Homo sapiens: one gene and its partners. The protein of the gene in region 3 interacts with the protein of the main gene of each other region in a pairwise test. Each region holds a gene or a part of one and is shown on either strand. Other genes may lie near its edges.

Evidence for each region.
Region 1: the proteins of HSF2BP (region 3) and ZNF564 interact in binary tests that used the Homo sapiens proteins (3 or more experiments, as listed by UniProt).
Region 2: the proteins of HSF2BP (region 3) and GGN interact in binary tests that used the Homo sapiens proteins (3 or more experiments, as listed by UniProt).

What each region holds. Positions count from the first base shown.
Region 1 is NC_000019.10:12,524,852-12,527,613, forward strand, and holds the end of ZNF564 (zinc finger protein 564), read right to left. Parts: coding exon 1,595-2,762; 3' UTR 522-1,594; downstream 1-521.
Region 2 is NC_000019.10:38,385,787-38,389,538, forward strand, and holds the start of GGN (gametogenetin), read right to left. Parts: upstream 2,249-3,752; 5' UTR 2,189-2,248; intron 2,064-2,188; exon of another isoform or gene 2,037-2,063; 5' UTR 1,975-2,036; intron 1,495-1,974; 5' UTR 1,476-1,494; coding exon 1-1,475. UniProt on the Homo sapiens protein: May be involved in spermatogenesis.
Region 3 is NC_000021.9:43,607,358-43,611,009, reverse strand, and holds part of HSF2BP (heat shock factor 2-binding protein), read left to right. Parts: intron 1-1,020; exon of another isoform or gene 1,021-1,123; intron 1,124-3,652. UniProt on the Homo sapiens protein: Meiotic recombination factor component of recombination bridges involved in meiotic double-strand break repair.

The DNA of each region.
Region 1 (2,762 bases), on a different chromosome or scaffold from region 3:
AGCATATTTGTAAATTTCCTTACTTTGTAAGACTCAGTAATATTCTCTTGTATGTATAAACTTCCTTTTGTTTATTCATCTGTTGATGAAAACCTGAGTAGTTTCCAGAGTTTACCTATTGTGAATGATGCTATGTACACAGGTGTACAAAACCTATTTGAGACTTTGCTTTCAATCTTTTTTGTTTTGTTTTGTTTTTTGAGACGGAGTCTTGCTCTCTCACCCAGGCTGGAGTGCAGTGGCGCGACCTCAGCTCACTGCAAGCTCTGCCTCCCGGGTTCATGCCATTCTCCTGCCTCAGCCTCCCGAGCAGTTGGGACTACAGGCGCCTGCCACCACGCCCGGCTAATTTTTTTTTAGTAGAGACGGGGTTTCATCATGTTAGCCAGGATGGTCTCAATCTCCTGACCTTGTGATCCGCCTGCTTCGGCCTCCCAAAGTGCTGGGATTACAAGCGTGATCCACCACGCCCGGCCCTGCTTTCAATCTTTTTATTTTCCCAGAAATGGAAATGCTGATCATATGTTATTTCTATATTTTAATCTGGGGATCTGCCATACTGTTTTCAGCAGGCTTATACCACTGTACATTCCCAGTGATAGTGCACAATGTTCTCCAACATTCCACATCCTTGACAGTATTTCTTGTTTTCCATCTTTGATACTACTAATCCTAATGAGATGCTATGTATGTCTTGAGTTTGATTTGTATTTCCCTAATGACTAAAGATGTCGAGCATTGTTACGTGCTTATTGGCCATCTGGGTATCTTCTTTGGAGAAATGTCTATTCAAGTCCTTTCCTCCATTTTAAAATTGGATTGTGTCTTAGCTTGGGTTGCTAAAACAAAATACCATAAATTGGAAAGCTTAATTAATCAACAAACATTTATTTCTCATGGTTTGGGAGGCTGGGAAGTCCAATATCAAGGCACTGGCATAGTCCATGTCTGGTAAGGGCCTGCTTCCCGGTTCAAAGATAGCTATCTTCTCACTGCACCCTCTCATGGTGAAGGGCAAAGCTAGCTCTCTAGGGATTCCTATCAGGAAACTAATCCCAATTACAAGGCCTCCATCTTCATGATGTCCTCCAATCCTAAAAACCACCAGAGACAGGGCCTCCAAATACCATCACATTGTGGGGGAGAGGGGGGGCACGGGGGTAAGGTTTCAACATATGAATCTGAGGTGGCATACACTCAGCCAAAACATTACACCTCTGGCCCCCAAAATCCATGTCATCACATGTAAAATATATTCATCTCATCCCAAAGGCCTCAAAAGTCTCAGTTAATTCCAGCATGAAGCCTAATGTTTAAACTCAAACTCCAAAGTGTCATCTCAATATCACATCACTCAGATATGGATGAGACTCAATTCATGCTGAGGCAAAATTCTTCTTCAGCTCCGAACCGGTGAAAACCAAACTAGTCATGTATTTCCAAAATATGAGACAGGCACAGGATAGAGATTCCTATTCCAAAAGTGAGAAACAGGAGAAAGGGGTGAGCTCCCAAACAAGTCTGAAACCCAGAAAGCAAACTGAAGACTTTCCATATTCTTTAGATATGTAGATACTTGTAGACCTGTCCTCCACTATTCATTTTCACAGGTATTCGAAGGTTGTGTGATAAATGAAAGCTTTCCCACATTCTTTACGTAAGGTTTATCTCCATTATGAGCTCTTTCATGTCTTTGAAAGGAACTGGAATAACTGAACGTTTTTCCACATTGCTTACATTCATAGGGTTTTTCTCCGGTATGAGTTCTTTCATGTATTCTAATGGAACTGGCATAATTGAATGCTTTCCCACATTCTTTACATTCATAGGGTTTTTCTCCAGTATGAGTTCTTTCATGTGTTCGGACAGAACTAGGACAGTCAAAGGCTTTACCACATACCTGACATTTATAAGGTCCATCTCCAGTGTGCAGTATCATATGTTTTCTAATCCTTTTAAGAGAAATGAAGGCTTTCCCACATACCTGACATTCATAGGGTTTCTCTCCAGTGTGAGTTCTTTCGTGTATTTGAAATGAACTGGGACAGTCAAAGGCTCTACCACATACCTGACATTTATAAGGTCCATCTCCAGTGTGCTTTATCATGTGTCTTCGGACACTTGGGAGAGAAATGAAGGCTTTCCCGCATTCCTTACATTCATAGGGCTTCTCTCCAGTGTGAGTCCTTTCATGTGTTCGAACATTACTGGAAGAACTGAAGGTTTTACCACATTTATTACATTCATAGGGTTTCTCCCCAGTATGAGTTCTTTCATGCTTTCGAACATAACTGGGAAAAATAAAGGCTCTCCCACATACTTTACATTTATAAGGTCCATCCCCAGTGTGCCTAATCATATGACTTTGAAAATTTGTGAAAGAAATGAAGGCCTTCCCACACTGTTTACATTCATGGGGTTTCTCTCCAGTATGAGTTCTTTCATGTATTCGAAATAAACTGGGGCGGTCAAAGGCTTTTCCACATTCCTGACATTTATAAGGTCCATCTCCAGTGTGCCTAATCATGTGTCTTTGAAAACTTGGAAGAGAAATGAAAGCTTTTGCACATTCCTGACATTCATAGGGTTTCTCTCCAGTGTGAGTTCTTTCATGTATCTGAAATAAACTTGGGCGATCAAAGGCTTTCCCACATTCCTGACATTTATATGGTCCATCTCCAGTGTGCTTAATCATGTGTCTTCGAACACTTGGGAGAGAAATGAAGGCTTTCCCACATTCCGGACATGCATAGGGTTTCTCA
Region 2 (3,752 bases), on a different chromosome or scaffold from region 3:
TGGTCGGCGGCTAAGGCTGGGGGCAGAGCAGGGGCTGCGGTGGGAGCCAGGGCTGACTCCTTGTGGCCCAGACCCGGGGTGAGCGGGGGAGCCACCGGCAGCGGCGTTGGCTGGAGCGCTGGTGGCTGCAGTGTGGGCGGCGGTGTGGGCGGTGGCAGCGGTGGTAACTCCTGCAGGCCTGGAGGCCCCGGGCGCATGGGCTCGCCATTGGTGGGTGCTGGGAAGATGAACGTAGGCGGCGCCAGCAGGGCAGGTGCGGGCCTCCGGGGCCCGGGAGCTGAGTGTATCTGCTCTGGTGGTGGCGGAGGGGAGCCCCAAGGCCCAGAGAGTGCGGCCGCACGCCGTCGCGGCGCCCCGATGCCTCCGCCAGCCCCGTTGAAGCGGAAGTGGCGTTCAGGGCCGTCGGGAGCGCTAACCCAGTCGAATTTGGGCTTCGAGCCTGGGAAGGTGGTGTAGGGTGGCGGCGGTAGGGCCCGGGCTTGGGACGCAGGCGCCGAGGGAGGACCAGAGCACCCTTCGCCGTCTCCATCACCTCCCTCGGCTTCCTGTGCCCCTCGAGAAACCTCTCCCAAGGGGCGAGCGGCTCCAGGAGGCAGGGGCCCTTGCTTCAGGACCTCGGCGTAAGAGATGGCACCTGAGGCAGCAAAGAGGCCGCCGCCTCCGCCGCCCCCCAGCGAAGCTTTGGCTGCTAAGGAACTCGAGGCTGCCGGAGGGGCCAAAGAGGGCCTCGACTTGAAGGTGATTTTACACAGCAGGCTCAGACCGGACTCGGAATCCGCAGGCTGGGCCATTTCGCCTTCGCCCGCATGGGGAGGCGCCCCTCCGCGAGCCCTGCCGGCCGTCTGGCCCTGGTTGCGGGGCCCAGCCTGGCTTTCTGTCGGGGGTGAGGCGGGTGTGGCCAGAGCAGGAGTGATTCTGCGGTCCGCCGGCTGCCGTTCAGAAGGTAATGGTGGTGGCGGCTTCCAAGTCTCCAGGGGCGGCGGAAATTGGGATGGGGCCCTCGGGACAGTGTCCTTCACGGATAGTTGCCGGGGCGGCGGCGGCGGCTTCAGCGGGCGGAGGCTCGGAGGGTCGCCCTGGCCGCGATGGCTCGCCTCCAGCAGGCGGCGGATCCGGGGAACTGGAGTGCCCGCGGGCTTTTGCCATTTAGACGGGCCGGGCAGCAGAGTCCCCGCGGGGGCCGGGGGTGGTGCAGAGACCGCGGCCGCCTCTTCAGGAGGGGGCATCACTGGAGAGGGCCGTTCTAAGGTGAGGGGCAGGGTCGAGGGTGAGGCCTGGGGCTCCCGGGGTACCATGAGTCCCGGGGGTGTGGCGCTGCCAGGGAACCAGACACCCAGCCCACGAGTCAGGCGCATGGCCTGGGAGGTCATCTCGGGCTCCACCAGGGACGTCCGGCGGGAGTCGGGGGCGCGGTCCGAGGGCTGCACTTTTCGGGAGCCCCCGCCCGCGGATGGCTCCGACTGCAAGTTCCCCATTTCTGACGGAGCTCGGAGACTAGTCAGAAAAATTTACTCCAGTCAGCCTGCCAGGGCCGTGGGGACCCTACGAGGCTGGCTGTACTTGATCTAATGCGTCCGCACCGGCCCCGCCCCTGTTCTCCAAGATCCGATCAGGCCCAAGTCCTTAGGTCGCACTCCTGTTCCCCGACCTTCGACACTCACGCCTTCTTGCCCATGTCCCCAACACAGCTGCTGTTAAGATACTTCACTACCAGCCCCATTATGTACTAAGGTTCCATGCCTGTCCCCTTGGCTGGTCATGCTGATCCCTCAGTCCTCTCCTCTAACTCTCCGACTCCCCGCCTCTCTCTAGAGCACCTGGGTCCCGCCCTCTTCCCAGGCAGGGGCAGATCCTCAGGCCTCACCCCTAAACCTCTTCCCGCTCCAGGTCTACTAGCTGGCATCCACAGTCAAGCTCCACCCCTGTCCCCAAGCTCCGCCCTGGCCCCGCCTCCCCCCAGAGGAACCCACTCACCGAGTCCTCCAGCCGAGCAGAGTTCAGACCGCGGCGCCCTGGGCCCGGGGCAGGGCAGGGAACTGCCGTAGCAGAAAATAACCGAAAAGAACGGGGGTGCGGGTGAAGGCAAGTGGGCGAGACAACTAGGGCGGACCCCGAGATGTAGGCCCCGCCCCCGGAGCTCGAGGCCCCGCCCTCCTGCGAGCCCGCGGGAGCCCGGCCCCTTACGAACCTAGGTCTCCCCTTGAAATACTCCGAGGTCTTGTTCCTCGCCCCCAGGCCTTCTGGTTCTAAGCTCCACCCCTTTGGGTTGTTCTCCTTAGCCCCTCCCCTTTAGAATGTCCCGCCCCTCTCATTCCCTCCCGAGGCCCCGCCCACGCGAACACCGATGCGTCGCTCCTCCCCTTTGGACCTCTCATCTGCCCCGCCCCTAAGGCAATTTACCTCTAAGCTCCGCCTTTTTAAGACCCGGCAACATCGCTTCTCAAGACCCTCTCCTTCCCCCCGGGCGCCGAGAAGGCCCATCCACCGTGGGCCCGCCCCTTCGTGACGCACGCACTAGTCCTCGCCTGCAGCATCCAAACCTCCTTATACCCAGGCCCTCCAACCCCACCCACTTGTGAAGGCTCCCCTCTCGCCCCACCCCTTATCGAACTCTGCCAGGCACCCAAGCCACAGCGTAGACCACCACCTCTTTAGAACCTTGAGACCAGTCCCTGTCCCTGCCCCGTCCCCTCCTCATAGCATTAGAGACCAATGGCGCAGATGGGTGGAAAAGTGGGGGATCCCCTCTGGATCTTAAGAAAATGGGGGCTGGGGGGTTGCTCTCTGGAGCTAGTGCCGGGCTCTAGGACCCAGCAGGCAAGTAAGCCCGCCTCGCTCTTACCCCTCCCCCAAGCCGCCCCTTCCCCCCCCACCCGTCTTCCAGGTTCCCCCTCCCTCCCCCCTCGCCCCGGCTCCCGGTGCCCGTCTCCAGCGCCGCCGGAGCCAGCCAGGGAGCCGGAACGAAAAGGAGGAGGAGGAGGCCGCGTCGCCGCCGCTCGGAGCCCGGCCGGAGCCTCGCAGGCAGGTGCCGAGGGGGGCGAGGGGGCGGGGGCTGACAGACTGCCTGCCCCGATGAGGGGGCGGCCGTGACCGCGCTGCGCCTTCTGCCCACCCAGGCGCCCCCAAGGCCCCGGCTAGGAGGACTAGAGAGTGGGGACCCCCCAAACTGCGCGGCAGCCATTCAGGGTACCAGTCTTCATTTGTGGGGTCTGGACTTTCTCCGAGGATGCCCCATTCACAAAATTCCGTCCTGGACCCTCACCGTTGAGGAACGCTGAGGACCACTCCCCCCGGGGGACACAGGATGTGTGGGGAGCGTAGGCCACCCTGAAATGCCAGTGCCCCATTCCAGCTAGGCCCTGGGGGGACCCCTGCTCTCATTCCCTGCTTCACCTGTTGTCGGGGGAGGCGGGCGGACAAAGGAAGCAGCGTCACGTGACTGCTCATTCACAAAATCCCATCCCATTGAGAAAAGGGGGCTGGGGGCGCTGCAGCCGCCCCTTCCCCTCCTGAAGGGCCCGGGAAACCCAGCAGCCTGCAGGTGGGGGAGGGGGCTAGAGCTCGTCCGGGTCCCTAAGGTTGGGACGCCAGGGTCCCTGTGCTGGATGGCAGTGAAGGGCTGGACACTGATCCCGATTACTGGGCGGAGGGCTACGTCCTCTGAGCTGGGGGGCGGGGTAAAATGGTTCTGAAGGATGCTGGGGCTGGGGGGCGGGAAGGGAAGAGGGAGGAAGGATCAATCTGCCCCCCCA
Region 3 (3,652 bases):
TTTACAAATTGCTTGTGGATCTAGTTCATTCCTTTTAAGTACCTTGCATCAAAGGAGATGTAATATTTGGATTATCCTTCCCTGACTGATGGGCATTTAAGTTACTTTCGGGTTTTACTTGACAAATATAATGCCGTAGTGAGCATCCTTGATAAACTCTTTGCTAACCTGTCTGAGAGTTCTCCAGGAGTTTTCCCAGAGGAAATATTTGAGAAGTAGTACATGGACATTTTCAATTTGATAAGATACTGCCAAATTGGTCACCATAGTGTACATTTCTACCTGCACCATGTCAGTGTTCGTGTTTCCCACGTCCTTGTCAGCACTTTGCTATTTATTATATTCCTCTAAAGAGAAAAAATATATGTGTATATGGAGAGAGAGGTGCCGGGGGAAGAGGGGGAGAGACAGGGTCTTGCTGTGTTACCCAGGCTGGAGTGCAGTGGTGCAATCACGGCTCACTGCAGCCGCGACCTCTGGGGCTCAAGTGATCCTCCCATCCCAGCCTCCCAAGTAACTGGGGTCCCAGCTACTCTGCACGCCACCATGCGCAGCTAATTTTTTTTTTTTTTTTGGTATTTTTTGTAGAGACAGGGTCTCACCTTGTTGCCCAGGCTTGTCTCAAACTCCTAAGCTCAAGTGATCCACCTGCCTCAGCCTCCCAGAATGTTGGGATTACAGCGTGAGCCACTGGACCTGGCCTTAAAGAGTATTTTTATCATCCACCTATCATCTGTCTGTCTTTGTCCTTCTCTCCCTTCCTTCAGATTTAGATTGCCAGTGAGGTTGAGGCTCTTCACATGTTTGTACCATTCCAGTTTTTCCTTTGAGTCACCTGTCTGTGTCTTGTGCCCACTTTCCTGTTGGGCTGCATTTTTCTTAGTGATCTGCTGTAGGTCTTTGTGTGTTCTGGATACTAATCCATTGCCTCTTTTGCTTCTGTGGTCTGTACAAGGTCCATATTTATGGGCCAGCTAAAGTCCCCCTTCAACTTCCAAGGCAAAGCTGTGTGTGAGGGCTGGGTCACTTCTAGCCTCTCCGGTTCCAGTCCCTGGAGCTCTGTGCCTTTGGGTCCTGGTGAGCTCTTGTTGATTGCAGTGGGAGATGGGGAGAATTGCCTTCAGAGCCATTCACTGACTTTCTTGGCAGTCTTCCATTTGGCCACTGAGCAAAGCCGCGTGTTTACCCTCTATCCTGACTCGGGATCTCAGCATGCACCAGCCTGAGAGGGGCCTTCCCCCTGGGATCTTTGGCTGCCTTCCAACATGCTCATGGCTTGTTCCGTCTCACCACATCTCCAAGGCACTCTTCTCCCCTCTTTTCACCTCCCCCACTTCACTAACGCCCACCCTTGAGTCCTCTGGAGCCCCAAGACCTTTCTCATACTATAAATCAGCCTCTTTTCTTCCTGGCCTCCCCCTGCCTTGTGTATAGCTTGCCTCTCTCTGGGGAACTACACTTTCACTGCCACTTTCATGATCGAAGGTCACTCATTTTCAGCAGTTAGTACCTTAGACCCAGAGATAGGGGTTATTTTTTTCCTAGTTGCCCATTTTTTAAAAAAATTTAAATTTAAATTTTAGATTCAGGGGGTACATGTGCAGGTTTGTTACAAGAGTATATTGCGTGATGCCAAGGTTTGGGCTTCTGTTGAATCTGTCACTCAGATAGTAGATATAGTACCCAATAGGAGATTTTTCAGTCCTTGTTCCTCTCCCTCCCTCTCTCCTTTTGGAGTCTCCAGTGTCTCTTGTTCCCATCTTTATGTCCGCGTATACCAAGGGTTTAGCTCCCACTTATAAATGAGAACATGCAATATTTGGTTTTCTACTTCTGGATTAATTCACTTAAGATAAGTGGAGGCAGCCTCCAGCTGCATCCATGTTGCTGCAAAGGACATGGTGGTGGTCTTTCTTTCTGGCTGCGAAGTATTCCATGGCTTGTATGTACCACATTTTCTTTATCCAATCCACTGTTGATGGACACCTGGGTTGATTCTATGTCTTTGCTATTTTTGTTTTGTTTAGTTTTGTTTTTGAGACAGGGTCTGGCTGTTCCATTCACACTGGCATGCAGTGGTGCTATCTTATCTCACTGCAGTCTGAAAATCCTGGGCTCAAGCAATCCTTCTGCCTCGGCCTCCCAAGTACTTGGGATTACAGGCATGTGACATCATGCCTGGCTAATTAAAAAAAATTTTTTTTTTTTTGGTAGCGATAGGGGTCTCACTTTCTTGCCCAGGATAGTCTTGAACTCCTGAACTCAAGTGATCCTTTCACCTCAGCCTCCCAAAGTGCTGGGATTTCAGGCATGAGCCACCACTTATCTTTGCTATTGTGAGCAGTGCTGTGATAAACTTATAAGGGCAGGTGTCTTTTTGGTAGAACAATTTTATTTTCCTTTGGCTATTTACCAAGTAATGGGATTGCTGGGTTGAATGCTAGGTCTGTTTTTAGTTCTTTGAGAAATCTCCAGACTGCTTTCCATAGGTGCTGAATTAATTTACATTCCCACCAACAGTGTATACGAGTTCCCTTTTTTCAGTGGTTTTGCCAACATGATGTTTTTTGACTTTCTAGTAATAGCCATTTTGACTGGTGTGAGATAGTACCTCATTGTGGTTTTGATTTGCGTTTCCCTGATGACTAGTGATGTTGGGCATTTTTTCATGTTTCGTTGGCTGCTTATATGTTTTCTTTTAAGAAGTGTCTGTTCTTGCCCTTTGCCTGCTTTTTAATGAGGTTGTGTGTTTTTTCTTGTTGATTTGTTTAACTTAACTTCCCTATAGATTCTGGATATTAGACTTTTGTTGGATCCATAGTTTGCGAATATTTTCTCCCATTCTGTAGGTTGTCTGTTTACTCTGTTGATAGTTTTTTTTGCTGTGGAGAAGCTCTTTATTTTAATTATGTCCCAATTGTCAATTTTCGGTTTTGTTGCAATTGCTTTTGAGGACTCAGTCAAATTCTTTGCCTAGGCCGATATCCAGAAGACTATTTCCTAGATTTTGTTCTAGGACTTTTATAGTTTGAGGTCTTACATTTAAGTCCTTAATCCATCTTGAGTTAATTTTTATCTGTGGTTAGAGGTAGTGGTCCAGTTTCATTCGTTTACATATGGTTAGCTATTTTTCCCAGCACCATTTATTGAACAGGGAGTCCTTTCCTCATTGCTTATTTTTGTCAATGTTGTCAAAGGTCAATTGGCTGTATGTGTGCAGCTTTAATTTCTGGGTTCTGTATTCTGTTCCATTGGTCTATGTGTTTATTTTTGTACCAGTGTTATGCTGTTTTAGTTAGTGTAGCCTGGTAGTATAGTTTGAAGGTGGGCAGTGTGATGGCTCTAGCTTTGTTCTTTTTTCTTAGCGTTGCTTTGGCTATTTGGGCTCTTTTTTGGTTCTATAAGAATTTTAGAAGAGTTTGTTCTAATTCTATGAAAAATGATGTTGGTAATTTAATAGCAATAGCATTGAATCTGTAGATTGCTTTGGGCAGTTTGGACATTTTCATGATATTGATTCTTCCAGTCCATGAACATGAATGTTTTTCCAGTTGTGTCATCTATGATACTTCTTTCAGCAGTGTTCTGTAGTTCTTCTTGAAGAGATCTTTCACTCCCTTGGTTAGATGTATTCCTAGGTTTTTGTGTGTGT